Linked DNA regions of Homo sapiens. The protein of the gene in region 4 interacts with the protein of the main gene of each other region in a pairwise test. Each region holds a gene or a part of one and is shown on either strand. Other genes may lie near its edges. The genes, in order: VAMP1, ALG8, NSG1 and CYB5R3.

Evidence for each region.
Region 1: the proteins of CYB5R3 (region 4) and VAMP1 interact in binary tests that used the Homo sapiens proteins (3 or more experiments, as listed by UniProt).
Region 2: the proteins of CYB5R3 (region 4) and ALG8 interact in binary tests that used the Homo sapiens proteins (3 or more experiments, as listed by UniProt).
Region 3: the proteins of CYB5R3 (region 4) and NSG1 interact in binary tests that used the Homo sapiens proteins (3 or more experiments, as listed by UniProt).

What each region holds. Positions count from the first base shown.
Region 1 is NC_000012.12:6,467,678-6,474,991, forward strand, and holds the start of VAMP1 (vesicle-associated membrane protein 1), read right to left. Parts: upstream 3,001-7,314; 5' UTR 2,855-3,000; coding exon 2,853-2,854; exon of another isoform or gene 2,789-2,852; intron 1-2,788. UniProt on the Homo sapiens protein: Involved in the targeting and/or fusion of transport vesicles to their target membrane.
Region 2 is NC_000011.10:78,122,625-78,129,649, reverse strand, and holds part of ALG8 (dolichyl pyrophosphate Glc1Man9GlcNAc2 alpha-1,3-glucosyltransferase), read left to right. Parts: intron 1-2,210; coding exon of another isoform or gene 2,211-2,213; coding exon 2,214-2,292; intron 2,293-5,435; coding exon 5,436-5,629; intron 5,630-7,025.
Region 3 is NC_000004.12:4,411,077-4,418,101, forward strand, and holds part of NSG1 (neuronal vesicle trafficking-associated protein 1), read left to right. Parts: intron 1-6,158; coding exon 6,159-6,359; 3' UTR 6,360-7,025.
Region 4 is NC_000022.11:42,618,375-42,625,399, forward strand, and holds part of CYB5R3 (NADH-cytochrome b5 reductase 3), read right to left. Parts: intron 5,515-7,025; coding exon 5,415-5,514; intron 1,572-5,414; coding exon 1,399-1,571; 3' UTR 1-1,398. UniProt on the Homo sapiens protein: Catalyzes the reduction of two molecules of cytochrome b5 using NADH as the electron donor.

The DNA.
Region 1 (7,314 bases), on a different chromosome or scaffold from region 4:
TGTCAGAAGCCTTCATAGCAGCCCCTCCCATCACAGGCCTGGAGGCCCAGGAGGAAAAAGTTATTTTGTGGGCCAGGCCCAGGGTCCCCATGCTGTGTGCAGCCTAGGGACTTAGTGCCCTGTGTCCCAGCCGCTCCCACTGTGGCTGAGAGGGGCCAATGCAGGGCTCGGGCCGTGGCTTCAGAGGGTGGAAGCCCCAAGCCTTGGCAGCTTCCACATGGTGTTGAGCCTGCAGATGCACAGAAGGCAAGAACTGAGGTTCGGGAACCTCCGTCTAGACTTCAGAAGATGTATGGAAACGCCTGGATGTCCAGGCAAAAGTTTGCTGCAAGGGCAGGGCCCTCATGGAGAACCTCTGCTAGTGTAGTACAGAAGGGACATGTGGGGTTGGAGCCCCCACACAGAGTCCCCACTGGAACACTGCCTAGTGGAGCTATGAGAAAAAGGTCACCATTCTCCAGACCCCAGAATGGTAGATCCACTGGTAGCTTGCACCGTGCGCCTGGAAAAGCCACAGACACTCAATGCCAGTCCGTGAAGGGAGCCAGGAGGGAGGCTGTACACTGTAATGTCTGTCAGCTCACCCCTTTTTATATTCAAGTTATTGGTTATGGTTATTGGTTTATATGCCCAGTTATTGGTTATGCTTCACACAAGATGAGGAAATCAGGGCTGCCATAAGGGCAGCTTGGAAAATCACCAAAGGCAAAGTCTATGTAGGTGGAGTGAGTCAGGACTGTTTGTTTGCTTTGTTTTTGGCAGAGAAAATGGGGGTTTCACTTAGATAGAATCTGGGGCCCAAAGCAATTACATTAGTTATGGAAACTGTTCCAAGAGCATAGACAGGAAGCAAAAATGCTAGAAATTGTCCTCAATGTGCATGCATTATAGACATTCTGTCCCTTCCTTTTCTGGATTTGACAGTCTCAGATGACTCCCTTGGTTACTTACATCCCAAAGAGAGATCTTGGTTTACTGTACTATACACACAGAGAATGTTCTCTCATTCTGTACCACTCAAAGTTAGTGTGTGGTCTTCAAGACAAACTCCTCTCCATGTCCCAAAACATGGAGGCTAAACTCACCTCCTAAAGAATTCCCAGAAGTATAACCTAAGTCATGAGATGTTCTCGGCCAAGGAAGCACCCACAGGCAGGGGGGAGATCTCTCAAATTTGATGGAGAATAGAAATTACAGTAAGAACTCCTCAAACAGAAGCAGAATCTCACCAAACATACTTCACAGGAGCAGTCCAAGAGTAAATGCAACAAAAATGAAACCACAAAGTCACCTAAAAGGAAATTATTTGACTAATTACAATAGAACTAATACCCAGAAGCTCATTCTCCTTGATTAAGTGAATTTCTTTTAGTCTAAAAAGATAGAGAATAACTCCTCAGAGAGGCTATGGTAGCAGATTACACCTGACTCATTCCCCATTTGAAGAATCACTTTTCCATTTCCCTCTAAGGTGCAAAGGAGGTAAAGCAAAGATAGACACAAAGTCATGGGAGCCACAAGACTCTTGTCCTGCCACTGAGCTAGCTAAGCAATCTAGCTCTCGACTTAAGGCAGAAAATTCAATGAGTAGGTAGCAGCCAGTGTTGGAAGCAGTCCAGGATGGTAGCACCAATGACAAGATTAAGGTCAGAGACCTCGTGATGCCCCGCTAGCCACCACGATTTTTCTGTTGCCTTCTGTTCATCCCACGTAGATACTATCTGGAAGCCCCCTCCCCAAAATGAAAACAACTGGAATTCTACGGCTTGCCCAAAATGCATAGAACACTCATATCTGGTTAAAACCATAGAAATCAAAAAGAAAAAGTGAAATGGCTATGAAGTATTTGCAAGGCCAATTTCACTTACTACTTGTTGGGAGTTGGAAACACTCAACAGTAAAATATCTAGGGATAATTACAACCCTTATGTAACACAAGTAAATCTTTCCCTTTTTTGTCACTTAGAGAAGCAACATAAATACATCTAGGACCAGGCCAGGGTAGTAATCAGAAAGAAAAATCTGTATTAGACATATTGAGGTCTTGACAGAGAAGTACTTCGTTTGTTTAGCCGTAGTTTTCCCTCAAGATCATGCGAAGGGGGTGATGTTGAAGACTGCTGGAGACTAAACTGTGTGTGTTGGAGGAAAGGGGGAAAGCTCAGCTCTCCCTATTTCTCCTCCAACTATTTGGTAAGACTCGGTGATAGAAAAACATCTCCTATACGAATGGCCTTGGTATGAACAGCCGCTTGGGATGACAGGCCACTATCCCACTACCCCTTGAGTCTTTCTGAGCTGCTCACCTGGTGCCAGAGAACTGGCAGATAAGTTTCTGCAGCTTTGCTCACTGCCATGAGGGGGGCTAGACATCACACTTTGGGTGAGGGGTAAACAAATCCAGAGATTGTAGGGCAACATAAGTTACCAACTGGCAGTTGCACCCATGACTGTCTTTCCTGAGGCGCTGAGTAGTGATTTAGCCAGATGACAGAAATACCTTTCGAGTCCCCTGCCCAGTTGTCTCCATCCACCACCCCCAGCCCCCGCCCTCTCCGAGTCTCCACTATACCAAAACCAGAATGAGGCGCCACTCAGACGAGAGGAGAGGGTGCAATGATTGTGGGACCCCTGCGCCCCTGCCCCGCCCGTGGGGTGCTAGCTGTGGCTGGTGCGAGAATGGGGTGCTGGCCCCCCTCCCTGGGGGTGGCCCGGTCCGGAAGCGGCGCGCGGTGGTAGTTCCCCGCGTTGCTGCAGCTGCTGCATTGCGCCATTTTCCGTCCCGCAGAATCGGGAGCTTGGGGCGAGAGTTGTCAAGGAGGTGCCGAGCCCCCACACCAGAGTCAACTCACATTTTTCTGACAGAGAGAGTGAGGGTCTGTTCCTCTCCGGAGGCTGCGGCGAGACACCCGGTGAGGGACGCTGCGGCTGAAGTGGACGGAACTGCCAAGCTCCGCCTCGCGCCGACTACCCCGCGGTCTAGCTGCGCTGGAACTTACTGCAGCTGCCGCGCCGGCCTCCGCCTTTATTAGTGCTGACCACGCCTCCCGGATAACGGTGACAACCCCGCGGCCCAATCCATGCCCAGGACGGTCGCCCAGCGCTACAGGCCTAGCCCGCCCCGCCCCTGCCAATTGCCAGTCACAACTCTCCTCTCATCCGACTCCGGAAAGGAGCGGTTGCTGTGAGGATCCTTCAGTGATCAATGCGACCATAGTTTGCGCTCCAGTCTGGCGGAGGGACGGGGCGGGGTGGAGATGAGGTCTGTCCCTTCGGAGGGCGCTTCAGCAGTTTGTTAGGCATTTGTGGTGCCTCCCAACCAATCGCTAGGCAGTTACTGAAGACCGTGCCCGCCCCTGCCCCACCCCGCGCCGGGACTCGCGCATTCAGCTGGAGGCGGCGGCTTCCTGGTGCGCGCCCAGCCCTGGTGCCCTGCTCTGGCCCTCGCTCCGCACCACCGCCCCGCCTCTAACTAACGCTCTGAGAGGGTGCAGGAGCCTCGAGACACAGCCACAAGCTCCTGGTGCCAGATACCGGATGCGGGGTTCCGTCCCACCAAAGCAAGCACGAAGCTTTCGTTCATTCGTTTCTTTCAACATAGCCTTCCTAAATTGAACTCCCTCCCAAACCTGCTCCAGTCGAGGTTACCACATCGACTCAGTTGCCCAGACCAGAAACGTGGAAACCATCCTAGATTTCCTCCCCTTCACCTTTACCTCTCCCCCAGTAATCTGCCAAATCGAGTTGATTTTTCCTTCTTGGCATTCCAGTGATTATCTCCCCTCTGCTCACTATTATCCCTTTCCTGGACTCCATCAGTTGGAAAATTCACCATTATTTTATGTCCCGCTAAGAAAAAAGGTTACAAGGCCGGGCGCAGTGGCTCACACCTGTAATCCCAGCACTTTGGGAGGCCGAGTCAGGCAGATTACCTGAGATCAGGAGTTCGAGACCAGCCTGGCCAACATGGCGAAACCTCTGTCTCTACTAAAAATACAAAACAGCCAGGCATGGTGGCGGGCGCCTGTAATCCCAGCTACTCGTGAGGCTGAGATAAGAGAATCGCTTGAAGCCGGGAGCCGACGGTTGCAGTGAGCCGAGATCACGCCACTGCACTCCAGCCTGGGCAACAGAGCAAGACCCTGTTTCAAAAAAAAAAAGAAAAAAGGTTGCAAATTATCTGTGACAAATGCTTTCCTTACCACTTAGCATTTTTGTTTTACATGTATTGAAAATATGGGTTTATATACATACCGATTTCTATATTTCACTCTTGTGCATGCATAAAAAGGGAAATAGAAAACAATAACATGGTAACTATCCCTAAAACTTCACAGAGACTGATTGTTAATGATTCACTTTTTTGACTCAGTCTTGGATGTCCACTAATTTCCACGCAATGTAGTCCTCTGTGCATTTCATAAGGGCTTTGGTGATGCAGCATTTCCTAAGAGTGTTCCTCTCCAGGCTCTAGAGTTTTCTTCCAAGCCTCAGACACCCATTTGGCAAGCTTTGATGCTCATGAGCAGGTATGACAAATATAGTTTGACTGCTGTCTGACTAATAGCTAAAGTGAAACATCCCAATTAGAAGATATTGAAATGCAAAAAAACAAACAAACAAGCACACACAAAAAACCCAAGTGCCTCCTAAGATCAATGATACATCATTCTGCTTCCAGTCTTGCCATCCTTTACATCTATTCTCTAAAAAGTCCACCAAAGTTATCTATCCAAATGTCACAAGTCTTCTTAAGGAAACAATTGCACTTGGAAACATAATGCATTCATCATATGTGTTTATCCCATTCTCCTCCTGAAACCACATCAAAATGGCAAGTTAGGGGGAAAAATGACAATTTGGGAAAATTTGCAAAAAATTATAAGCCCCCAAAGACAAAAAGAATGGGGCCGGGCGTGGTGGCTCACTCCCGTAGTCCCAGCTATTTGGGGGGCTGAGGCGGAAGGACAGCTTGAGCCCAGATGTTCCGGTTGCAGTGAGCCGAGATCACGCCACTGCACTCCCACCTGGGTGACAAAATGAGACCCTATCTCCAAAAGAAAAGAAAAAGGGCCAGGCGCAGTAACTCACACCTGTAATCCCAGCAATGTGGGAGGCCAAGGAGGGCGGATCACTTGAAGCCAGGAGTTCAAGACCAACCTGGCTAACGCAGCAAAATCCCGTCTCTACTAAAAATACAAAAATTAGCTGGGCATGGACGCCTGTAGTCCCAGCTACTCGGGAGACTGAGGCAGGAGGATCACTTGAACCCGGGAGGCGGAGGCTGCAGTAAGCCGAGATCTTGCCACTGCACTCCAACCTGGGCAACAGAATGAGACTGTCTCAAAAAAAAAAAAAAAAAGAAAGAAAGAAAGAAAAAGAAAAGAAAAAAGAATGGGAGGAAATATTTCTGGCAGCATGAATGCCTATTTATTCCCACCAACTTTCCCCTGAAAAAAAACTTAAAATCATTGAATGGTGACTCACGCCTATAATCCCAGCATTTTGGGAGGCCAAAGCAGGAGGATCACTTGAGCCCAGGAGTTCAAGACTAGCCTGGACAACATGGTGAAATCCTGTCTCTACAAGAAATAGATACAAAAAAATATAGCTGGGTATTGTGGCACACACCTGTAGTTCCAACTACTTGGGAGGCTGAGGTGGGAGGATTACCTGAGCCTGAGGAGGTCAAGAAAGCAGTGAGCCATGATCACACCATTGCACTCCAACCTGGGCAACAGAGTGAGACCCTGTCTCAAAAAAACGGGGTTGAGGGGGTGGCATTTTTTAAACTTTTTTTTTTTTTTTTTGAGACGGAGTCTCCCTCTGTCGCCCACGCTGGAGTGCAGTGGCGCTATCTCGGTTCACTGCAAGCCCCACCTCCTGGGTTCACGCCATTCTCCTGCCTCAGCCTCCTGAGTAGCTGGGACTACAGGCACCCGCCACCACGCCCGGCTAATTTTTTGTATTTTTAGTAGAGACAGGGTTTCACAGTGTTAGCCAGGATGGTCTCGATCTCCTGACCTCATGATCCACCCGCCTCGGCTTCCCAAAGTGCTGGGATTACAGGCGTGAGCCACCGCGCCCGGCCTTAAACTTTTTATTTTAAAGTAATTATAGATTCATATAAGGTGGCCAAAAAAAAAAAATACAATACAGGGAGGTTCCCCTAAACCCCTTTACCCAGTTCCCCCAACAGTAACATCTTGTATAAATACAGTTTAAAATTATTAAAATATTAAAACCAGGAAATTATCATTAGCAAAATCCAGAGTTTATTCAAATTTCACCGATTTTCCAAACTGGCATGTACCACCAAACACTTCTTTTTGTGTTCGTGTGTGTTTGAGTGGTTTTATGCAATTGTATCATGTGTAGATTTGTGTAACCACAACCACAGTTAGGATACAGCATTTTCACATTACTGCAAGGCTCCCATGTGCTACCCCTTTATATTCCAACCCACCGCCATCCCTAAACCTTAGCAACACTAATTTGTTCTCCATCTCTGTAACTTTATTTCAAGAGCCTTATGTAAATGTAGTCATGCTTTTTTCTATATCACGTAACCTTTCAAGATTGGCTTTTTTCATTCATCCAAGTTATTGTGTGTATCATTACTTTTTCAACCATCCAAGTTATTGTGTGTATCATTAGTTTTCACCACTGATTAATATTCCGTGGTACATTTAACCATTTACCTGCTGAAGGACATTTGGAGTGATTTCAGCACTGGGCTATTACAAATAAAGTTGCTGTGAACTTTCATACAGGTTTTGTGTGAACATAAATTCTCATTTCTCTGGGATAAATGCCTGAGTGCAATGCTTGGGCAGTAAGGTAATTGCATCTCTAGTTTTATAAGAAACTGCCTTTGCCTGTGTTGCCCAGGCTGGTCTTAAACTCCTGAGCTCAAGCAATTCTCCCACTTCAGCTTCCCAAGTAGCTAGGACTATAGGCATCATGCCCAGCTGTATTTTTCTTATTTTAACCATTCTAATATGTGTTCAGTGCTATCATTGTGGTTTTAATTCTTATTTCACTGATGGCTAATGATATCAAATATCTTTTAAAGTGTTTGCCTTGTATATATTATCCTATTTGATGAAATGTTGGTTCATGTCTTTTGGCCATTTTCTTTTTTTTTTTATTGATCATTCTTGGGTGTTTCTCGCAGAGGGGAATTTGGCAGGGTCATAGGACAATAGTGGAGGGAAGGTCAGCAGATAAACAAGTGAACAAAGGTCTCTGGTTTTCCTAGGCAGAGGACCCTGCGGCCTTCCGCAGTGTTTGTGTCCCTGGGTACTTGAGATT
Region 2 (7,025 bases), on a different chromosome or scaffold from region 4:
AGTAGAACAAATTACATCTGAATATTATTATGAAAATAGTACATATTTCAAACTCCTTGAAAGGGTCTCCCTGTGAGTCCCTGAATCACACTTTGAGAACTGCTGCTCTACAGTATTCCATTGTGTGAAAACACCACAATTTATTTAGCTATTCTGCTGTTTGTGGACATTTATCTCCACTTTTTACCTGTTGCAAATAGTTTTACTTTGCACATTTTTTTTTTTTTTTTGAGACGGAGTCTTGCTCTGTCGCCCAGGCTGGAGTGCAGTGGCGCGATCTCAGCTCACTGCAAGCTCCGCCTCCTGGGTTCATGCCATTCTCCTGCCTCAACCTCCTGAGTAGCTGGGACTACAGGCGCCCACCACCACACCCAGCTAATTTTTTATATTTTTACTAGAGATGGGGTTTCACCATGTTAGCCAGGATGGTCTTGATCTCCTGACCTCGTGATCCGCCTGCCTCAGCCTCCCAAAGTGCTGGAATTACAGGTGTGAGCCACCGCGCCCGGCCCCACTTTGCACATTCTTACAGTACGTGTCTTTTAGTGAGCATACTATGCATTTCTGTTGGGTATACGTACTTAGACTTGGGATGGATGGGTCATCAATTCAGTTCTGAGTGGAGATTTTGAAATATCTGTAGGAAATTCAAGTGAGATTGTTAACAGGAAGTTGGAGGTGTCTGTCTCCACAACTTAGTAAAGAAGCCAATGTTGCATATTGAAATTTGGGAGTAGGCCAGGCATGGTGGCTCATGCCTGTAATCCCAGCACTTTGGGAGGCCGAGGCAGGCTGATCACGAGGTCAGGAGATCAAGACCATCCTGGCCAACACAGTAAAACCCCATCTCTACTAAAATACAAAAAAAAAAATTAGCCAGGCGTGGTGCCGCGCACCTGTAGTCCCAGCTACTTGGGTGGCTGGGGCAGGGGAGTCGTTTGAACCTGGGAGACGGAGTTTGCAGTGAGCCAAGATCGCACTACTGCACTCCAGCCTGGCAACAGAGCGAGACTCCGTCTCCAAAAAAAAAAAAAAAAGTAATTTGGGAGTCATCATTATACAATTGACAGTGGAACCAGAAAGTTTGCATAAGATTGTCCAGAGCAGAATAAGTTGCGTAAAAAGGGGACCAAGAACTGAACCTAGGGGAATATCAACATGTCCCTGATGAATATAGGAAGGGAAAGCCATGACTGAGAAAGAAGGGTTGGCTGGAGGTAGGAGAAAGTTGTCATTGTGGAAAGGTTGTGTAAAATGTTGGAAAGGGTAAATTGGGCTTTGCTGTGGAACTCATTGTTCACTTTGGTGAGTGGATATTCAGCAAGAATGTATTGAGCTTGTCCATGCGTCAGGTACTGTTCTAAATGTGGAGGGGAGGTACAGCAGTGGACAAACAGGAAAAGATTTTTTCTAAAGATAGGTGATCCTTAGATATGTATAGTGATGGGAAGAGGGAGAATTTGGAGACATGGGAAAGGCAAAGCAAGGATCTTTTCCCACCTTCTCTGTCAGATGAACTCCTCATCCTTATGTCTTGGTATATGAGGCCTTTTTCAGGTAATGAATTTTGTTAGAATTGTTTGTGAGCAAGAGGAAGTCACTTCTGAGCAAAGGCCTGAGGGCCGCCTGTAAGAAAAAGTTTGGGCTAGGCCGGGCGTGGTGGCTCACGCCTGTAATCCCAGCACTTTGGGAGACTGAGGCAGGTGGATCACCTGAGGTCAGGAGTTTGAGACCAGCCTGGCCAACATGGCGAAACCCCACCTCTACTAAAAATTAGCCAGGATTGGTGGTACATGCCTGTAGTCTCAGCTGCTCGGGAGGCTGAGACAGGAGACTCGCGTGAACCCGGGGGGCGGCAGTTGCAGTGAGCTGAGATGGGTCCACTACACTCCAGCCTGGGTGACAGAAGGAGACTCCGCCTCAAAAAAAAAAAAAAAGAAAAGAAAAAGAGAAAGTCTGGGCTTCTTGTCAGCCCTTTAGGTAGTTCTGAGACCCTTTTCACTGACTTGTAGATTGCTCAACAACTTTCTAGAAGATCTGACCTCCAGATAAATGAGGTTTTACAGGATTATGTAATGTCTATTTGTGTCTCTATAGGACAGTGAGCTGTGACAGCTTAGGGAATGTCAGTCCATTTAAAAGCATAACTATGGGAATTAGAAATTGATAAATATTGCAAAATCTCATTTTATTTATCTAATTGTTTTGAGTAGCCATTCCACAGATTTTGAAGTACACCGAAACTGGCTTGCTATCACTCACAGTTTGCCAATATCACAGTGGTATTATGAGGTAAGTTTTAATTTTCACCTTTTTTTTTTTAAGATTCATCTATAAACTAGGTAAATATTACTGATATTAAAAATGTTTTCTGGCTGGGTGCGGTGGCTCACGCTTGTAATCCCAGCACTTTGGGAGGCCAAGGCGGGCAGATCATGAGGTCAGGGGTTGGAGACCAGCCTGGCCAACACAGTGAAACCCTGTCTCTACTAAAAATACAAAAATTAGCTGGGTGTGGTGGTGGGCACCTGTAATCCCAGCTACTCAGGAGCTGAGGCAGGAAAATCACTTGAACCTGGGAGGCGGAGGTTGCAGTGAGCCGAGATCGCGCCACTGCACTCCAGCCTGGGTGACAGAGTGAGACTCTGTCTCAAAAAAAAAAAAATTTTCTTGCAATCATAGATCTAATTAATCTTTATAAAAATTGTGGTCTCTTCTCAGTTCTGTCCTCTTGCACTACTAGGGAATCCCCTTACTTCAAAATGAGTTTCCCAGTCTATAAATTGGGAGGTATAATATCTACCACACTTTTTGAAAGAATAGTGGACTGGGAAAGAGGAAGAACTGGATTCTTAGGCCTGGCTCTGCCACTATCTAGTTACATAGAGAAAAGATACTTCATGTCTCTGGGCCTTAGTGTCTCATCTGGCACATGAGGATTTGGAGTGAATTATTTCTAAGATCCTGTCTGTTCCTAATGTTTTGTGATTTTGTGAGGAAAGGAATAATCAAATGTGATGTGTAGACATCAGGTAATATACAAACCATTCTCTCATATTGTTTATAAAAACTATGTCTGTATTTTTATTTCTTTTTCTTTTCCTTTTTTTTTTTTTTGAGACAGAGTCTCGCTCTTGTCACCCAGGCTGGAGTGCAGTGGCACAATCTCAGCTCACTGCAACCTCCGCCTCCCGGGTTCAAGCGATTCTCCTGCCTCGGCCTCCCAAGTAGCTGGGATTACAGGCGCCCGCCACCATGCCCCAGTTAATTTTTGTATTTTTAGTAAAGAGGGGGTTTCCCCATGTTGGCCAGGCTGGTCTCGAACTCCGGACCTCAGGTGATCCACCCACCTTGGCCTCCCAAACTGCTGGGATTACAGGCGTGAGCCACTGCACCCAGCTTGTATTTTTGTTTCTGGTATGAATTACTAAACTGTGTGTAATACTTTATGAAAAACAGACATTACTCCAGAAATTTCTTCTTTTTTTTTTGAGACGGAGTCTCGCTCTGTTGCCCAGGCTGGAGTGCAGTGGCGCGATCTCTGCTCACTGCAAGCTCCGCCTCCCAGGTTCACGCCATTCTCCTGCCTCAGCCTCCTGAGTAGCTGGGACTACAGGCGCCCGCCACCATGCCAGGCTAATTTTTTGTATTTTTAGTAGAGACGGGGTTTCACCATATTAGCCAGGATGGTCTCGATCTCCTGACCTTGTGATCTGCCCGCCTCGGCCTCCCAAAGTGCTGGGATTACAGGCGTGAGCCACTGCGCCCGGCCCAGAAATTTCTTGATGAAAAGCAGTACTCTGCTGACAGGGAGTTGGATTTTGTTTTGTTTTCTTTTCTTTTGAGACGAAGTCTCACTCTCACCCAGGCCGGAGTGCAATGGCACGATCTCGGCTGACTGGCGACCTCTGCCTCCTGGGTTCAAGTGATTCTCCTGCCTTTAGCCTCCTGAGTAAGCGATTCTCCTGCCTTAGCCTCCTGAGTAGCTGGGATTACAGGCACCCACTACCATGCCCAGGAAATTTTTTTTTTTTTTTTGTATTTTTAGTAGAGACAGGGTTTCACCACGTTGGTCAGGCTGGTTTTGAACTCCTGACCTCAGGTGATCCACCTGCCTCGGCCTTCCAAAGTGCTGGGATTACAGGTGTGAGCCACTATGCCCGGCCCAGGGAGTTTTTTTTAAGGCAAATTTTTTGCAAGTTTCCTATGAGTTTCGATACCATATATAGTATTTTATATGTATATATAAAATGGAATACCATAACCCATGAGGTAGATACTACTATCCCTGTTGTATAGGTGCAAAAAGTGAGACTTAGGCTGGGCGCGGTGGCTCACGCCTGTAATCCCAGCACTTTGGGAGGCCGAAGTGGGCGGATCACGAAGTCAGGAGATCGAGACCGTCCTGGCTAACATGGTGAAACCCCGTCTCTACTAAAAATACAAAAAATTAGCCGGGTGTGGTGGCGGGCTCCTGTAGTCCCAGCTACTCGGGAGGCTGAGGCAGGAGAATGGTGTGAACCCGGGAGGCGGAGCTTACAGTGAGCCAAGATCGCGCCACTGCACTCCAGCCTGGGTGACAGAGCAAGACTCCATCTCAAAAAAAAAAAGAAAAAGAAAACTGAGAGAGAAATCTAACAAAATATACTATTCTAAAGCTTGTATATTTTCATATGATTTCTGTTTTCATTTACTCATTAGCAACTGTTCCTTTAACTAGTGGTTATTTTATCCCAAGCAATATGTCAGGCACTTACTAAATGCTGAGGATACAAAATGATAAAGGATAGTTTCTATTCTCCAGGATCATATAACTTACTGAAACAAAATATAATAGCATTTGTGTATTATTTTGTTGTTTATAAATATATTTCATATGTATTATCTCATTTAATCTTCATAATACCTCATTTTACAAATAGGGAAATTGTGTCTCTAAGACAGAATTTGAACCTAAGTTAGTGAATTATTTGTTATTTAGATGAGTAGAACCATGTCATAACCAAGTTTATCATCTCCAGGTTTCAAATTAATTTCCTTTAAGTGTAGTTGACTCTATTTAAGGAAATTGAAGACCATGTTAAATAATTTACAAGACAGGTTTTAGTGTTCTGTTCAGTCTTACATAGGAATTGTTCTATTAATTTAGGGCATATTTTAAGTGCAACAGCATTTCACTGTGATTTTTGTTCGTTTGTTTTTAATTAAAAATAGAGACAGGGTTTTACCATGTTGCCCAGACTGGTCTTGAACTCCTGGGCTCAAGCGATCTGCCTGCCTTGTCCTCCCAAAGTGCTGGGGTTACAGGTGTGAGCTACCACGCCCAGCCTTATTGTGCTGTTTTAAAGACCAGAGAATGAAAAATTTTAAATCGTTGCACCATCTTTGTTTATTCAGTTATTTAGGATATGTCTGATCTTCTATTTTTATCACAGGCAACTTCAGAGTGGACGTTGGATTACCCCCCTTTCTTTGCATGGTTTGAGTATATCCTGTCACATGTTGCCAAATATTTTGATCAAGAAATGCTGAATGTCCATAATTTGAATTACTCCAGCTCAAGGACCTTACTTTTCCAGAGATTTTCCGTCATCTTTATGGATGTACTCTTTGTGTATGCTGTCCGTGAGTAAGTCTGGAGCATGTCATTTTGTATGGAAGGTATTGAAAAAATAGTACAGTGTTAAGTAGTATTAACTTACTCCCAATTTAGGAGGAACAAAGTTTATATGATAGCAAATGCTAAAACAATGAAAAATTGTATTGTGCTTTAAACTACATGTTTAAAGCACTCTAGCTGAATCTTGTGGAAGAAATGGGGATAAGGTGGAGTTACAAGGCAGAGGTAGAACAAGAGATTATGAATGTTGTGAAAAGAAGTAGTCCCAAGTATAGTTCTAGGGCCATTTCTCCCACCCAGAATAGCTCCATATGTTTTTCTTTGCTTCCTTGCAGCAGGCCGCCAGAGGCTTCCATCACCTACCCTATCTTAGGGTATGCACACAGTACATGCACAGTAGCGCACACGTATGGATTGTGCTAACCACCAAAGTCTGCTTTTACGGAGCTTTCATTCTAGTAAACTCAAGAAATTTCACTGAGTGCTTTTAGTTGTTTCCATATACTTTCCTTCATGAAGACTCTTTGTTATTTTAAGTTATGCTTATATTTTAAATTTTTATGTTTTACAACTTTTACTTATAAGTTAATTTTAAGTATTGAATACACATATATAGAATGTCTTGCACAGTGACTTCCAAGTACTAAGTTTCAGTTAATGTCAGTTTCCATTCTTTCCTAATTCTTTTTTTTCTTTTTTTTTTTTTTTTTTTTTCTTTTTTTTCCCTGAGATGGAATCTTGCTCTGTCGCCCAGGCTAGAGTATTGTGGCGCGATCTCGGCTCACTGCAACTGCCTCTCGGGTTCAAGCAGTTCTCCTGCCTCAGCCTCCCAAGTAGCTTGGATTACAGGTGCACACCACCATGGCAGGCTAATTTTTGTATTTTTAGTAGAGACAGGGTTTCACCATGTTGGCCAGGCTGGTCTTGAACTCCTGACCTCGTGATCCACCCGCCTCGGCCTCCCAAAGTGCTGGGATTACAGGCATGAGCCGCTGCACCGACCTCATTCTTTCCTAACTCTTAAGCTCGCTGGTGTGATTGTGACAGAACAGTGACTGGTGTTCATTCAGTGACCCTTGTCATAAATGGATCGTTTCTGTTTGTGAGGCCCTCTACACTGAACCCTTGCCCCACTCAGTAAAGAGTCCCTTGGGAATGTCTTTAACCCTTGCGCATTCTCATTGAATAATCCTGTTTGAAACCCTTCCTTTCAATCTGTTTATGACCTGGCAAGAGTTGAAAGGGAAGGTAATTTTTAATATACTCTTTTTAACTCAAAATGTTTGAATTCAAGCTTCCAGGGGAAGAGTATACAAGCACAAAGGGAGAGGAAATAGAATTCATTTCCATCTGCAAAGTAGAGGGAATAGTTAAAAAGATTGTTGAAAGGCCAGGCATAGTGTCT
Region 3 (7,025 bases), on a different chromosome or scaffold from region 4:
AACTCCTGACCTCAGGTGATCCACCCACCTCGGCCTCCCAAAGTGCTGAGATTACAGGCGTGAGCCACCACACTCAGCCAATAAACTTTTAAAATGTAAGTTTTTGACTCTTTTGTAATAACACTTAGCTTAAAGCTCAAACATCTTGCACAACTGTATATTATTTTTCTACATGTGCTTTTTCTATTAAAAAATTTTTTAATTCTTTTTTTACTTCCAACACATTTTTGTTAAAGCTAAGGACACAGACACACACATTAGCTAGGCCTGCACAGGGTCAGGATCCACAGTATCACCGCCTTCTGCCTCCACACCCTGTCCCACTGGAAGGTCTTCAGGAGCAGTGACAGGCACAGGGCTGTCATCTCTTAGGATAACAATGCCAGGCCAGGTGCAGTGGCTCACGCCTGTAATCCCAGCACTTTGGGAGGCCTAGGTGGGTGGATCACCTGAGGTCAGGAGTTCAAGACCAGTCTGGCCAACATGGTGAAACACCGTCTCTACTAAAAATACAAAAATTAGCCAGGCATGGTGGCGGGTGCCTGTAATCCCAGCTACTCAGGAGGCTGAGGCAGGAGAATCGCTTGAACCCAGAAGGCGGAGGTTGCAGTGAGCTGAGATCATGCCACTGCACTCCAGCCTGGGCAACAGAGGGAGACTCCGTCTAAAAACAAAACAAAACAAAACAAAACAAAACAAAACAAAACAAAACAAAACATTGCCTTCTTCCAGAATCTCTCTTGGAGGAGCTCCCTGAAGCTCTTTTAGAGTTAACTTTTTTTTTTTAATAACTAGGCATGCACTCTAAAATACTGATTAAAAAGTATAGTACGGTAACATAAACAAGTAACATACGCGTTTATTGTCACTGTCAAGTATTATGTTCTGTATGTAATTGTATGTGCAAGACGTTTATACAGCTGACAGTGCAGGGGGTGTGTGTATACCAGCACCTCCGCAAAGTGAGGAGTGTGTTGTGTTCCGTCTACACGGTGGCTGCGAGGTCACCAGGCGACAGGAGGTTTCAGCTCCGTGACAGTCTTATGGGGCCACCATGGCATGTGGTCCATCGTTGACCCAAATGCTGTTATGCCGCGTGTGGCTGTAAAACGCACTTGCTGGTTCCCCACAGGGAGGAGGGGGTGGCTAAAACTGCCTTCCCTATCCTGCAAGCCCAAGTCCCGCTGGATACCTGGCCTGGGTGGGAGATGACCCAGGAGATGAAGCCCCAGTCCTGTGTCCGGCTGCAGATGAGACTGGCGGCCACAATGGAAGGGGCCTGGCACCTTTTGTTTAAAAGGCGCTCCAGGTGATTCCCATCCACAGCCAGCCTTGGGAATTGAGAGTCCCCTGATAAGTTGTTCTGGAGTGATGTCCTGTGGGACTTTGGCATTTTCCACTAGCATCTAATGAGGGGGTGTCCTTTCCGGAGAAGGCACCTAGGAAGGCCAGGGAGCTGCTGGTCTGTATCCAGCTGCCCTTGGCCAAAGCTGGAGAAAGGAGAGGCGTGAGCTCATGAAGTCCCCTTGACCTCCTCCCTCCATATTTGTGCGTGTGTTTGTCACACACCAACGCTAGGCAGCTTGTGTGGGGCTTTTACACCTGTTGCTCACGGAATCCATACACTCGGTAGCTGTGGGCTCCCGTTATCCATACACTCAGTAGCTGGCTCTGAACTTCCCAGAGTCAGTGTGAGATGCTCATCTCCAGGGCTTGGCACTGCTGAGATTAAAATAAAGCAGGAGAAGCCAACTGTTTCTAGCACTGAGCACGTGCACAGGGAAGCCTGGCTTGGCAGCTGTCACTGGGTAGCTTGGGTTTGGGTTTCATTTAGGTTTTGTTTTTTGCTGATATGAGGACGCAGAGAGTCCTTACGCGATTAGCAGGAAAGGCTGGAATTCACGTTGTCCAGCCCAAGTCCCTTTTTCTCCTTGCACATCATGCTGTCCTTCAGGCTCCCGACATTCAGCTCTTCCTCCCTTGGGCAGGCATGTACATGGCACCCACCCCGTGCCAGCAGCTCTTGCTATTGTTCTAGGCGCTGGAACACAGCCGAGAGCCAGTCAGGTACAGCCCCCTGCCTTCACGAGGCTCTTACATTCTCAAATGAACGGTGAGGAAGTCAGTCGTACACTGAATGTGAAGGCTATAGACAGACAGGAAAGAGGGCCCAGGGGTTGGGCATGGGCATGTGGGCGGTAGTTTCTAGAAGGATGGTCCACATTGGAGGAGCGGGTCTCCAGGAGGTGAGCCAGGGAGCTTGCGGGTCTTGGGGGAGTGTGCCCAGCCAAGGAAAGCCCCCACCCTTTCACTCATGTTTTATTCAGCAAGCCCCGTCCACGCCCTAGGCTGGGGCTGGGAGAGTTTGAGTCTGTTTTGGAGGCTGAGAGGACACCAGGGCTTTACAACAAGCAGAAGCGGAGGGTGCGGGCTTCAGGGAACGAGGGCAGTGCTGGCCCTGACCCAGTGGGAAGGGGTTTGTGATGGTAGAGGAGCACAGAGGGAGCAGCGGGCAGTGGGGACGTGCTGGTGGGGGTGTGCTGGTGGGGGGCTAGCCACAGGCACAGGGAGGCGGCAGAGGATGAACCAGCTTACGGCCAGAGCGGGTGCATCCTGAGTGCCAGGCACAGGCCCCTGGAGGAGGGGGAAGTGATAGGGTGACCTCTTGGGTCACCTGGGGAGGCTGGAGATTGGAAGGGAGAGACGGGGCAGTGAGATGACCAAGGAGACTGCTGCAGTGGCTGAGGGAAGAGAAGACTGGGGCGCTGGGGATGGAGGGGAGACTGCAGACTGGAGAACTGATTTAATCTGGGAGGCAGAGGGGTAAAAGGAAAGGGCCTGGTGCAGAGCTAGTTACTGAGGGAGGCCGATGTCATGGAGAGGGAGCACGGGCAGGCCCAGGAGCTGGCCCTGAGCCGGAGAGAGGACAGCAGAGGACAGCTTCCTGGGGGCCGGAAGTCCCCACCGAAACTGGCTACTTACAAATAACTGAGGCCAGTGGCTTCACCAGCTGCCCTGGAGCTTCCTTCCTGGCTCATCCTCTCTGAGCCTGGAGCAGGTTCCCCACAGGGAGGAGGGGGTGGCTAAAACTGCCTTCCCTATCCTGCAAGCCCAAGTCCCGCTGGATACCTGGCCTGGGTGGGAGATGACCCAGGAGATGAAGCCCCAGTCCTGTGTCCGGCTGCAGATGAGACTGGCGGCCACAATGGAAGGGGCCTGGCACCTTTTGTTTAAAAGGCGCTCCAGGTGATTCCCATCCACAGCCAGCCTTGGGAATTGAGAGTCCCCTGATAAGTTGTTCTGGAGTGATGTCCTGTGGGACTTTGGCATTTTCCACTAGCATCTAATGAGGGGGTGTCCTTTCCGGAGAAGGCACCTAGGAAGGCCAGGGAGCTGCTGGTCTGTATCCAGCTGCCCTTGGCCGAAGCTGGAGAAAGGAGAGGCATGAGCTCATGAAGTCCCCTTGACCTCTTCCCTCCATATTTGTGCGTGTGTTTGTCACACACCAACGCTAGGCAGCTTGTGTGGGACTTTTACACCTGTTGCTCACAGAATGCATCCAGAAGCCCTTTGAGGTGGATGCTGTTATATCCCCATTTTACCAGTGGTTAGAGGGTGTACAGAGGCTCTTCGTGGAGCCCAAGGTCACGCCCTTCAGTTCACTTGGTACAGTCAGCATGTACTAAGTACCTCCTACTATGTGCACACTGGACTCGACACCTTGAGGGCAGGGACCTCAGAGCCCCAGGCAGTGGGGAGGGGACAGGCTTTTTCTGGACAGCCACTCCCAGTGGCCCCAAGCTGAGGCATATCGTGAGGAGGGTGAAAAAGGCAGACGTGGCCCGAGAGGACACTAGGTTTCTACCTCTGCCTTTAAAAAAAAACAACAACAACATGAAATTACTACATGTTTTATAAAAAAGTTTTAAACATAATGGGGAAAGTGCCCCAAATCCCACATTTTTATACTGGCTTTTCCCTTTATATTGGCCATTCTTTTTTTTCATGTAGACAGGTTACACGTTCTTGCTATGTTGCCCAGGCTGGTCTCGAACTCTTGGGTTTGCTCAAGTGATCCACCCTCAGCCTCCCAAAGTGCTGGGATTATAGGCATGAGCCATCGCACCCGGACCTTAGTGGCTACTCTTTTCCAGTGCTGACTGAGTGCTGGGTGCTGGGAACACACTTACGTAGCTACCTCAGTCCTCCCGTGCCCCACAAGACAGGTCCGTCATCAGCTTCACTTCACAGGTGAGGGAATGAGGCCCAGAGAAGTTGGGGAACCTCCCCAAGCTCCTCCAAGTGCAGGCCCAGCTGAGTCACGCTCCCCTCAAGGCACACACCCCACAGGTGAGGGTGGCTCTGTATGAGATGGGTATGGGGGGCGGCAGGAGCCTCTCAGAAAGCCTTCCCTGGCCCATGTGGGCTCACGGCAAGGCCTCTGCATTCTGCTTCCGTTGGGAAGCCCTTCACCCCCTGGGGTGCTCGCCACCATGGGCACCAAGGTGCCTCCCCAGCCTTGCCTTTGGGCAGCCACGTTGTCTGGGAGGCATCTGGGGACTCCATCTGTCCTTCTCCCTGGGCGGGGCACCTGTAGGGCAGGGCCGTTTCTGAGCCATCTCGTATGCCAGCCCTGAGCGGGGCCGCCACTCCACAGGTGTTGGCCGCATCAGGTCTTGCAGGACTCTGCTGGGTGCCGAGGTGGGAGGGAAGAGGGGAACCCTTGGTCCGTTTCCCTGAGGGATGACGAGCAGCAGATGGAGAGGACAGCGTGAAGGGGCGTGGCGGTGAGGCTGGAGGGGAGTTTGTCTGGCCTGCAGAGCCTCCTTCCTGATGCACGCGCTGCTGGTCTGAATGGGCTGTTTGTTCTGTAGCGTGTCAGGTGCTTCCCGACGTCCTGGTGGGACTGAGATCAAGACGCTGTTGATAAAAGGGCTGTACTTCAGTGGTGTCTTTTGGCTTTCTTTTCTGTCCACACTGTGACCTGGGGCACATCCTGGCTTCTTTACTTGAGCCACTGTGCATTGACTTGAGTCCTCAGCAACACGGTGGTGTGACTCATTGGCCGCATTTTATAGGTGAGGGACCTGAGATTGAGAGAGAAAACACTCCGCACGTGAACTCAGCTGGTACGGTGGGCCTGGCTCCAAAGCTTCCCTTCTCCTGTAGCGCCGCCCTCCTGCCAGTGGCAGCCCCTGAACACTGGATGCGGGGCAGTGTTGGTGAGAAGCACATTCCATTTGTCATTTCTCTTTTGAAAATAGCTCTTTGTTCACAAGGGCCTTGCAGGTATAAAGTATTCTCATCTTTAGACTTCAGGGTTCAATGAGCTGGTAACAGAGAATGGATTCCCCATGGGGGCTGGGTGGCATCAGGAGCTGATCCCTGTACACCTGCCTTAAGCCCGTGGAGGTGAGCCACTCACCTCAAGGACAGGCTGCAGCCACAGCTGCCAAAACAGGGAAAACGCCCCCGGCCCTGCCTGAACCACAGGGCCTGGCCTGCAGGGAATGGGGGTGTGGATTTGCTGCCAGAATCCGCTTCCTGATAAACCTCTGTAAGACCCAAGTGCTGTCTCGCACTCCCCCAACCCACGGCCCCTCCCTACCCCCTCGCCATCTTCCCAGCCCCTAGTCATGACCACCTAGTGGCTCTGTGTGCCTCTTCTGACTCCCGCCCCAAGGCCCCTCTCTGCTCTGGTTTCCTTTGCCTTGAGTGCTGCCCCTCCCTCATCTCACCTAGCTAAGGTCTGCTGAGAACCTAGCTCAAGGGAAGCTCTTCTCACTTCCCTTCCGTCCTCATTTGAATTGGTTGTTTTGGGATATTTCATAAGTTGTTGTTTTCCAATTGATTAAAAATGACAACTAGTGCAAGATCTTCAGTGAAGTAAGGCCTGCTGTCCCATTACACTGGCACCCTTGGAGCCCAAGTGCCCATCTGCCATGGCACTCACCAGCCAGTCTATTAAGAATAATCAAGGCCAGGCTTCCCCTGTGCTGTGCTCTCTCAGGGCAAGATCCATGCCCGTTTTTGCTCATCACTGTATCTATTCCTCCAAGCTCAGGGAAGGTGCTCAGTAACTGTTGGCTGCCAACTGGAGACACACTGGCACCCCCTCTTGCACCGACGCGTGCTCTCAGTGGCCTCTTGTCTTTCAGAACACCCAGTGCATCCCAGAAGGCTTGGAGAGCTACTACGCGGAGCAAGACTCCAGTGCCCGGGAGAAATTTTACACAGTCATAAACCACTACAACCTGGCCAAGCAGAGCATCACGCGCTCCGTATCGCCCTGGATGTCAGTTCTGTCAGAAGAGAAGCTGTCCGAGCAGGAGACTGAAGCGGCTGAGAAGTCAGCTTAGCGGGATGGGCAAGTTCCTTACAATGTGTCACTTGCAAATAACAAAGGGACTTTGAGGGACATTTCATTAAATATAATTACTGATACTTTAGAGGTTACTCATTTACGGTGCAATTGCTTCTGTTTGCTAATGCTGCTTTGCAAATAAAACTTGCTGCCGACCACCCACGGGCATAAAATCAAGTGCATTTCAGCATTGCCTAAAGAGCTCTGACACCACTTTTCATGTTAAGATCTTCATTTAGCTCCTTTACTGGGATTTATTGGATGCTGTAAAAAAATAAATTTACACTGGATATGCGAAGGGTTTGGATCTCAGATAAATGCATTTTGTGGAATTGATTTTCTGAACCGACCCTGCTGTCTGCAAACCTTCCTCCATAGCCATATCTAGAGTGATCTCTCGCTGTGCTAAGAGCAAGCCTACTTCGCATTTCTTCCTCGGCCATCAGCGGGTAACAGTGCTGACTGCTGCCAAGGTGCACTGTAGTAAGTAAGTGGCATAGAGAACGAGGAAAAAGACCCCCCCACCCCTCCCTGTGCTGACTCCTGAGTCGGGGTGGGACGGCCCTGCAATGTGGCAGGCTCGGTGTGGATTGACTACTCCCTCCCCTCTGACTCTGGCATCTTGGTAAGGAGGGAGGGGCACCACCCATCTGGGTGGAGA
Region 4 (7,025 bases):
AAAATACAAAAAATTAGCCGGGCGTAGTGGCGGGCGCCTGTAGTCCCAGCTACTTGGGAGGCTGAGGCAGGAGAATGGCGTGAACCCGGGAGGCGGAGCTTGCAGTGAGCCGAGATCCCGCCACTGCACTCCAGCCTGGGCGACAGAGCGAGACTCCGTCTCAAAAAAAAAAAAAAAAAAATACAAAAACTAGCTGGGTGTGGTGGTGGGCACTTTTAGTCCCAGCTACTCGGGAGGCTGAGGCAGGAGAATCGCTTGAACCCGAGAGGTGGAGGTTGTAGTGAGCTGAGATCATGCCACTCCAGCCTGGGTGACAAAGGGAGACTCCGTCTCAAAAAAAAAAAAAAAAGAAAAAAAAAATGCTAGGTCTTCCCCAGCCCTTTCCTGACCCCACCCCTTGTGTTGCAGGTCACAGACCCTCGAGGAGCTAGAGAAGGGTTAATATTAGCAAAGTTTTACTTTTTTTTTTTCTGCTCATAAATGACTCTGAAAAAGCCAATACGCAAGAGGCTAACACAACTGTAGTCTAAAGGCAACGTCGAGGTCACTGATATGTCCCTCAGACAAGAGGCACTGCTCAGAATCCCCCTGTGCTGGGGGTGAGGGAAGGAGGGGACGGTTTAGGACAGAGGAATAAATACATGTGGTTGTGGGAGTTCTGCCATCAGGGATGGTGGCCCCAGCCCAGGACCCCAAAACCCTGAGGCGGTGCAGTGGGCTGCCAACCCCCCAGCTCGGGGTTCCCCAAGGCTGCCTCAGTGTTTGGATGGGCTGGAAGGAAATGCTGAGGTTCTGGGAGGGCCCCATGGCCAGCCCCCTCTTCCCACTCTAGCCAGAGGAGAGCCAAGCTCCCGGCTGGCCAGGGCCCTGGGGTAGGGAGCAGTGCCCCCAAGAGGGCTTTCTGGTGTCAATGTCTCATGCAGCGTCAGGTGGTGAGGCCTGGGCCTGGCCCTGAGGCGGGAGTGGGGGTGACAGGCGAGGCTGGGGTGGGCCCTGGCACCTGCAGCTTTGGGCTGCCCATGTGTGTCTGCTGACATCCCGACTATGGTCCACGGCCGGGAATGGTGGGCAGACGGGGCTGCTGGCAGCCCTCAGCCTTATAGTGTGTGTGGGGGGTGGACGAGGGGTCATGAGGACAGGGATGGGGCTGGGCGTCTCTGGTAAGGACCAGTAAGTGCCAGGCAGGACGTACTCTGAAGGCTCAGCCGTGGCCCATCTGGGACACAGCCCTGCTCCCGAAGGGGCTCCAGGGGAACTGCTCAGCCAGGTGATTCACCAGGGCACGGGCAGGCCAGGCTGAACCCGGGGCCCCAGTGTGCGATGTGGGGAGGTGACTGGGTGAGCGTGAACAGGGCGTGGGGTGCGCGGGGCGGGTGGCCGTGTGACCGTGCCCGGCCCTCAGAAGACGAAGCAGCGCTCCGTGGGGTGGCCCACGTGGTCCAGGTTGGGAAGGCAGGCGTACTGGATCATGGGTGGGGGGCCACACATCAGCACCAGCGGCTCCTCCTCTGGGGGTGGAAGGTGGTCCCGGATCATCTCCTCATTCACGAAGCCCTGGCCGTAGTCCCAGGCTGTGGGGTGAGAGACCAGGTAAGCTGACGTGTGGCTGTGTGGTCACCAACCTGCTGACCGACCAACCCTAGGCGGTGAATTCCTTAAATGCTGAAGAATGGAGAGGCTGATCCCAGCAAACTGTCACCAGGACCCCCTGCCCCCAACCCTGACTCAAGCCTATGGCCTCAGGCCCTGCAGCCTGAAACCAGTGTACAAAGCCCATCATGGTTCCCCTGACTGCACTTTACAGTTTGCAAAGCCTTTTGCTTCCATTTGGCCTCCGGGGTGTCCCTTGGAACAACCCAGTGGGTGGACAGGGCGGGGAATATGAATCCCATTTTACAGATGTGGCAACTGAGGCCCAGAGGACCCAGAGTTGAGTTGCTCAAGATCACACAATGAGGCAGGGACACGACTGAGATGTACCTTCCAGGATCCAGAGGTCCCCAGGCTGGTGCTCTGCCCCAGGCTGCTCAGGGTGACAGTCTCTAACTGCCCCCACCTCCATGAGCCCACTGTGACTCCCCAAGAATGTCGGCCCATGAGGAACTGAGTCTCATCCACAGCTGTGTGTCCTGCCCCCTCGAGCCCTGAGCGCCCACGATGATATGGCTGGTCTCTATCCTTAGTAACCAGAAACAACCACCCCACAGCCCTCAACACCAAGAGAAAAGCTGCTGAAGCCTCAGGCCAGGAGGGCTGGCACTGGCTGACACAGACACCCTGCCTAGATGGCCCAAGTTTACAGCATACACTCCACGCTGTGAAGGTCCTGACGGGGAGGGGCCAAAGCAGTCCCGCTTGCCCTGGAACCAGGAAGAGTCTACTGTGCTGAGCAAGGGGGTCCTCTTTATCTCATGGACTCCATGAGCTAAGTCACTGACCACATTTCCCTTTTCACCTTGGCTGCTGGGAAGCCTGGAGTGATACGTGTGGCCCATTCACAGCAAGCGTACATTATAGTCCGTTTTTGTACAAATCCCAGTACTGATTCCATTCATTTTATAGCCCTGCACTTGTTTTTCTTTCACTCCCACTTTCCATTTGTGCCACTCTGACTCACCAGATGAGTCTTTGTAAGCCTCCTAAAATCCCTCTGGAACAAGGCGAGGCACAGAAAATAGTTTTATAGCTGGGCAATGGATCTGAAGTGGATCTGAAAGTACCTTGTAAAAACTGCATGGGCATAAACTGCTAGTGTACAAAATGTGCAGGTATGTAAGACACCTTTCAATTTCACAGCGATTTCTTTTTAGTGTGTGTGTGTGTGTGTGTGTGTGTGTGTGTGTGTTTTTAAGAGACAGGAATTGGCTATGTTGCCCCAGCTGGCAGGCAGTGGCTATTCACAGGTGTGATCATAATGCCCTCCAGCCTGGAGCTCCTGGGCTCATGTGATCCTCTTGCCTTAGCTTTGAATAGCTGGGACTACAGGTGCATGCCACCGTGCATGGCTTAATGTATTTTTCCCTGTACCTGTCCTGAAAGTGGCTCTGTGGGGGAAATACTCACTGCCCCTGCCTGGAGTCCTTGGGGCTCTCCTCATCCTTCGCTTAGCTACGGTACAGCCAGACTGGCCTGTTACCACTTTCTTTCTCAACCTCTGGAATTTCAGCTTACATTTAATGCTACAGCAGTACCTCAACTAATCTTGAATTGTGGGTCACAGTGGCAACAAATGTACACGAAAAATGCTAGGAGATCACCCAACTATTCCTCTCATTGGCAGGTAACTGTCCCGTGGTGGTGGTGCAGGTGCTGCTGCCTGTTGCCACCAGGGGTCAGCACTGGCCCCTCCCTGGGGGACCAGGCCTCGCTCTGGCCACAGGGCAGGGGCTCCTGCACGCACCAGGGATCTGGATCACTCATCTGGAATTGGGATGGGGCTAAACCCTGCCTCGCAGCAAGCTGGCCCCGCCCATGCCATTAGAAACTGCAGTCAGAAAGGAGCAAAGCAGCCTATCACTTCCTCCCTTTAGACTGACACATGGGTACAGGATAAAACGCTCTTTTCTTTGAGACGGAGTCTCGCTCTATCGCCAGGCTGGAGTGCAGTGGCACCATCTCGGCTCATTGCAACCTCTGCCTCCCGGGTTCAAGCCATTCTCCTGCCTCAGCCTCCGAGTAGCTGGGACTACAGGCACGCGACACACGCCCAGCTAATTTTTGTATTTTTAGTAGAGACAGAGTTTCACCATGTTGGCCAGGATGGTCTCGATCTCTTGACCTCATGATCTGCCTGCCTCGGCCTCCCAAAGTGCTGGGATTACAGACGTGAGCCACCGCGCCCGGCCTGCTCCTTTCGTTAGTAGAAGAGAAACAGCAGCTAGACTCCCAGAGCCAGTGCCCTGGCTGACCTCCGCTCCAGCCGCTGCCTGGCTCTGCTTGGCCCCCCACATCACAGGAACCCCGCCACCATAACCGCGCTATAATTTACTAAGAAACCTGCTCCCATTAGTCCTCTGCCTCCCCCACTGGAAGGTCAGCTGCGGGGTCAGGTTGGCTTCCTGAGCATACCAGGTGGAGCAGCCGACCTGGAGGGGGTGGGCTGACCCAGGACAGCAGGTCCAGCCAGAGGCCGGACACGGTGACAACCCACACATCCACCACCCCCTCCAGGCCTGGGTCTCTCAGCCTGGAGGCCTGGAACCCAAGCTGGTCATCTGAGAAGGGCGGCTGCTCCCTCAGGGATGGGCCCAGGTGACCCAGCTCCTAGGTGCTAGCCAGGTGGTGCAAGTCCCAGAGCCCATGTGCTCCTTTCTGGGAGGAGCAGAGGGTGGTGTGGACAGAGCTCCCTCATCAGTAGAGGGCATGCACCCCCTGACATGGATCATCAGCAGAGGGTGTGCGCCCCCCACCATGGATTAGTCCTGAGGAAACTGTGGGGCCGTAGGAGGTGCCGGAGGCAAAGCAGGGGCAGATGGCAGGACATGAGACCCCAAACTGGTGCTCACACGGGTATTCAAAAATGGTGCTTCCAACACTTAGAAATTTCCCAGAAAATGCAGGTCCCCAGCTTCTCTTGAAAAGCAGAGGCCCTGGCCACACAGGGCTATACTCCACAGCGGGATTGCCCACGGCGGATGGGGCTGTGTCCTCCGGACCAGGCAGATGCGCTCCAATTTACCGCAGTTGCCGCCACTCCCTAGTCTCTCAGCCCTGAAGCTAAACATCACCAGAATGTTTCCTGGGGAAGGCTGAGCTCTGCTTTTCTTACAGCAAAGAAGAAATTGAGATATTACTTATACCTACATCTCTATCTGAAGCCGAAAAGGGAAGGGCGCTTTAACTCCCAGAGGCAACCTCACTGCAAGTGGTGGAGGTGGGGCGGCCCTCACTCGCTGCCTCCAGCTTGGCTCTCCCACAACTCCCTTGGCAAGCAGCTCAGCCACTGGACAGGTGGAACAAGGGTAACCCCAACGTCGGCCCAGCCCACTCCCCAGGGCTGACAATGGGAGAGAAGATGGCCTTGGTGTAACTCGGCAGCACCTGAGAGTATGCACGCTGGGATGTGGAAGCAGCAGCCGCCACCGCTGCCCCGAGACTTGCCCCGAAGTGAGCCCCGCCCAGGGAGGGGACGCTGGCCTTCTCTGCCCAGCTGGGCAGTGCAGTGCGCCCGGGAAAGGACTCTGCCTCTGGAGGCGAGGACCTGGGTTTCAGGCCGGGCTGTGGTGGTTTCCGGCTGTGTGGCTTCAGTGAGCCCTTGTTCCTCATCTGTGAGACGGGGCCACACCACCTGCCTCCCACAGGGCCATAGTGAGTGCCAGATGTCGTCCAAAGGCTCAACGCCACAAACAGCTGGGCAAAGGTGAACTGTGGGCTGGCACCTCCCACCCACCCAGTGAGGGGCCTCCCTCACTCACCTTCAGGGGCTCTGTCCAGCGTGTACCAGAGCTTGAAGCGTGCAGAATGTTTGTTCCTGAGTTCCTCCAGCTCAGGTCGCAGCAGGATGTCCTTCTCGGTCTGCAGGGGACAGGGCCAGGCAGTCAGGAAGGATGGGTGGCAGACTGCCCCTGGAGACACTCAACAGAGACGCGCCTCGTCATCGCGCCCGCCTGCGGGCCACACGCTTGCGGAGCTTTCAGGAGGGGACTCGGCCAGAGATCACCCTGGCACCCCTCTCTCCTTGTCTAGCCTAAGGAGCCCCTCAAAGCTGCTGCTGAAGGGGCGAAGGCGTTCGCTAGAAACTCAGTGTGTCAACTGCTTCTGCTGTTGTGAGGAAATGGGCTCGATGTCCCGAGAGTGGGAAAAATGGAAAAAACTAAAGGCGGCCAAGCTGCGCGACAGCAAAAAGGGAAGAGACGGGAAATGTGCCAAGATACTCCAGGGGGTCAGCCCGGGAGCGGGTGTAACACATACAATAAGCAATGGCCCCGTGAGAAGGCTCAGGATTTGCACCCTCAGCCCTCCGGCAAGTCTTTTTGCGTTCTGGGATCTCATTCAGGTTGTACCTCCAGAAACCAGGAAGTACAGACACCACTCCCCACCCAACCTGGCCCCCTCGGGCCTTGCCCACACCCATCCTCCTGGCTGGCCTGCGGCTCCCCCACCCCCACCCGGCTGTCACAGAGCCCTACAGAACTCAGTCCAGCGTCATCCCTTCCAGGAAAGCTTCCTGGACCCTCCAGGGGCTATCAGGGATCTCCCCCTGAATCCCCCACCCGACTCCCCGCCCCCCACCCCCGTTCCACCTCTGATCACATCACAGGCTGCTGCCCAGCGTTTGCAGGTCACACAGGGACAGAAGGGGCTCCTTAGGTCAGTGTGCAGTGTCCCTGACCTCAGGGAACTCAAAGAAACCAGGGGCCAAAGAGCGCTGCCACCCAGAAAGGGCTGCCCACTAACAAATCGCTACTGAGCTCCCAGGCTGGGCAAGGGCGGGGTGGACTCTCCCCAGGAGGCAGCCACAGACGTGACTCCTCTGTTCCCAGGGCTGGGGAACTGCACCCACCCTCCGCGTAGCCCAAGGGTGCCTGAATACGGGAATCACCAGCTCCTTGGTGCTCCCCTCCAGCAGATGAGCTGTGTGAGGGGCATAAGCCTCAACACATCCCAGGGAACACGGGGTGTTGAACAGTTTTTCCAGTTTCTGAGGGTGGGAGGCTGAGGGCCCTTTCTGCCCTAATGGGGTGAGGACAGGGACAGGGACAGGCTTTGGGCTAGATGAACTCAAGGAAAAAAATACAGAAAATATGGAAGAAAAAGTACCTGAAACCCTTCAGAAATAATGACTGTTAGGATTTTTGTGTGCATCTTTTCACTTTTCTTTTTCTATTAACTATGTGTAACTTTCTTTTTAGGCCAGGCATGGTGGCTCATGCCTGTAATCTCAGCACTTTGGGAGGCTGAGGTGGGTGGATCACTTGAGCTCATGAGTTCGAGACCAGCCTGGCCAACATGGTGAAACCCCGTCTCTACTAAAAATATAAAGAATTAGCTGGATGTGGTGGCGGGCACCTGTAATCGCAGCTACT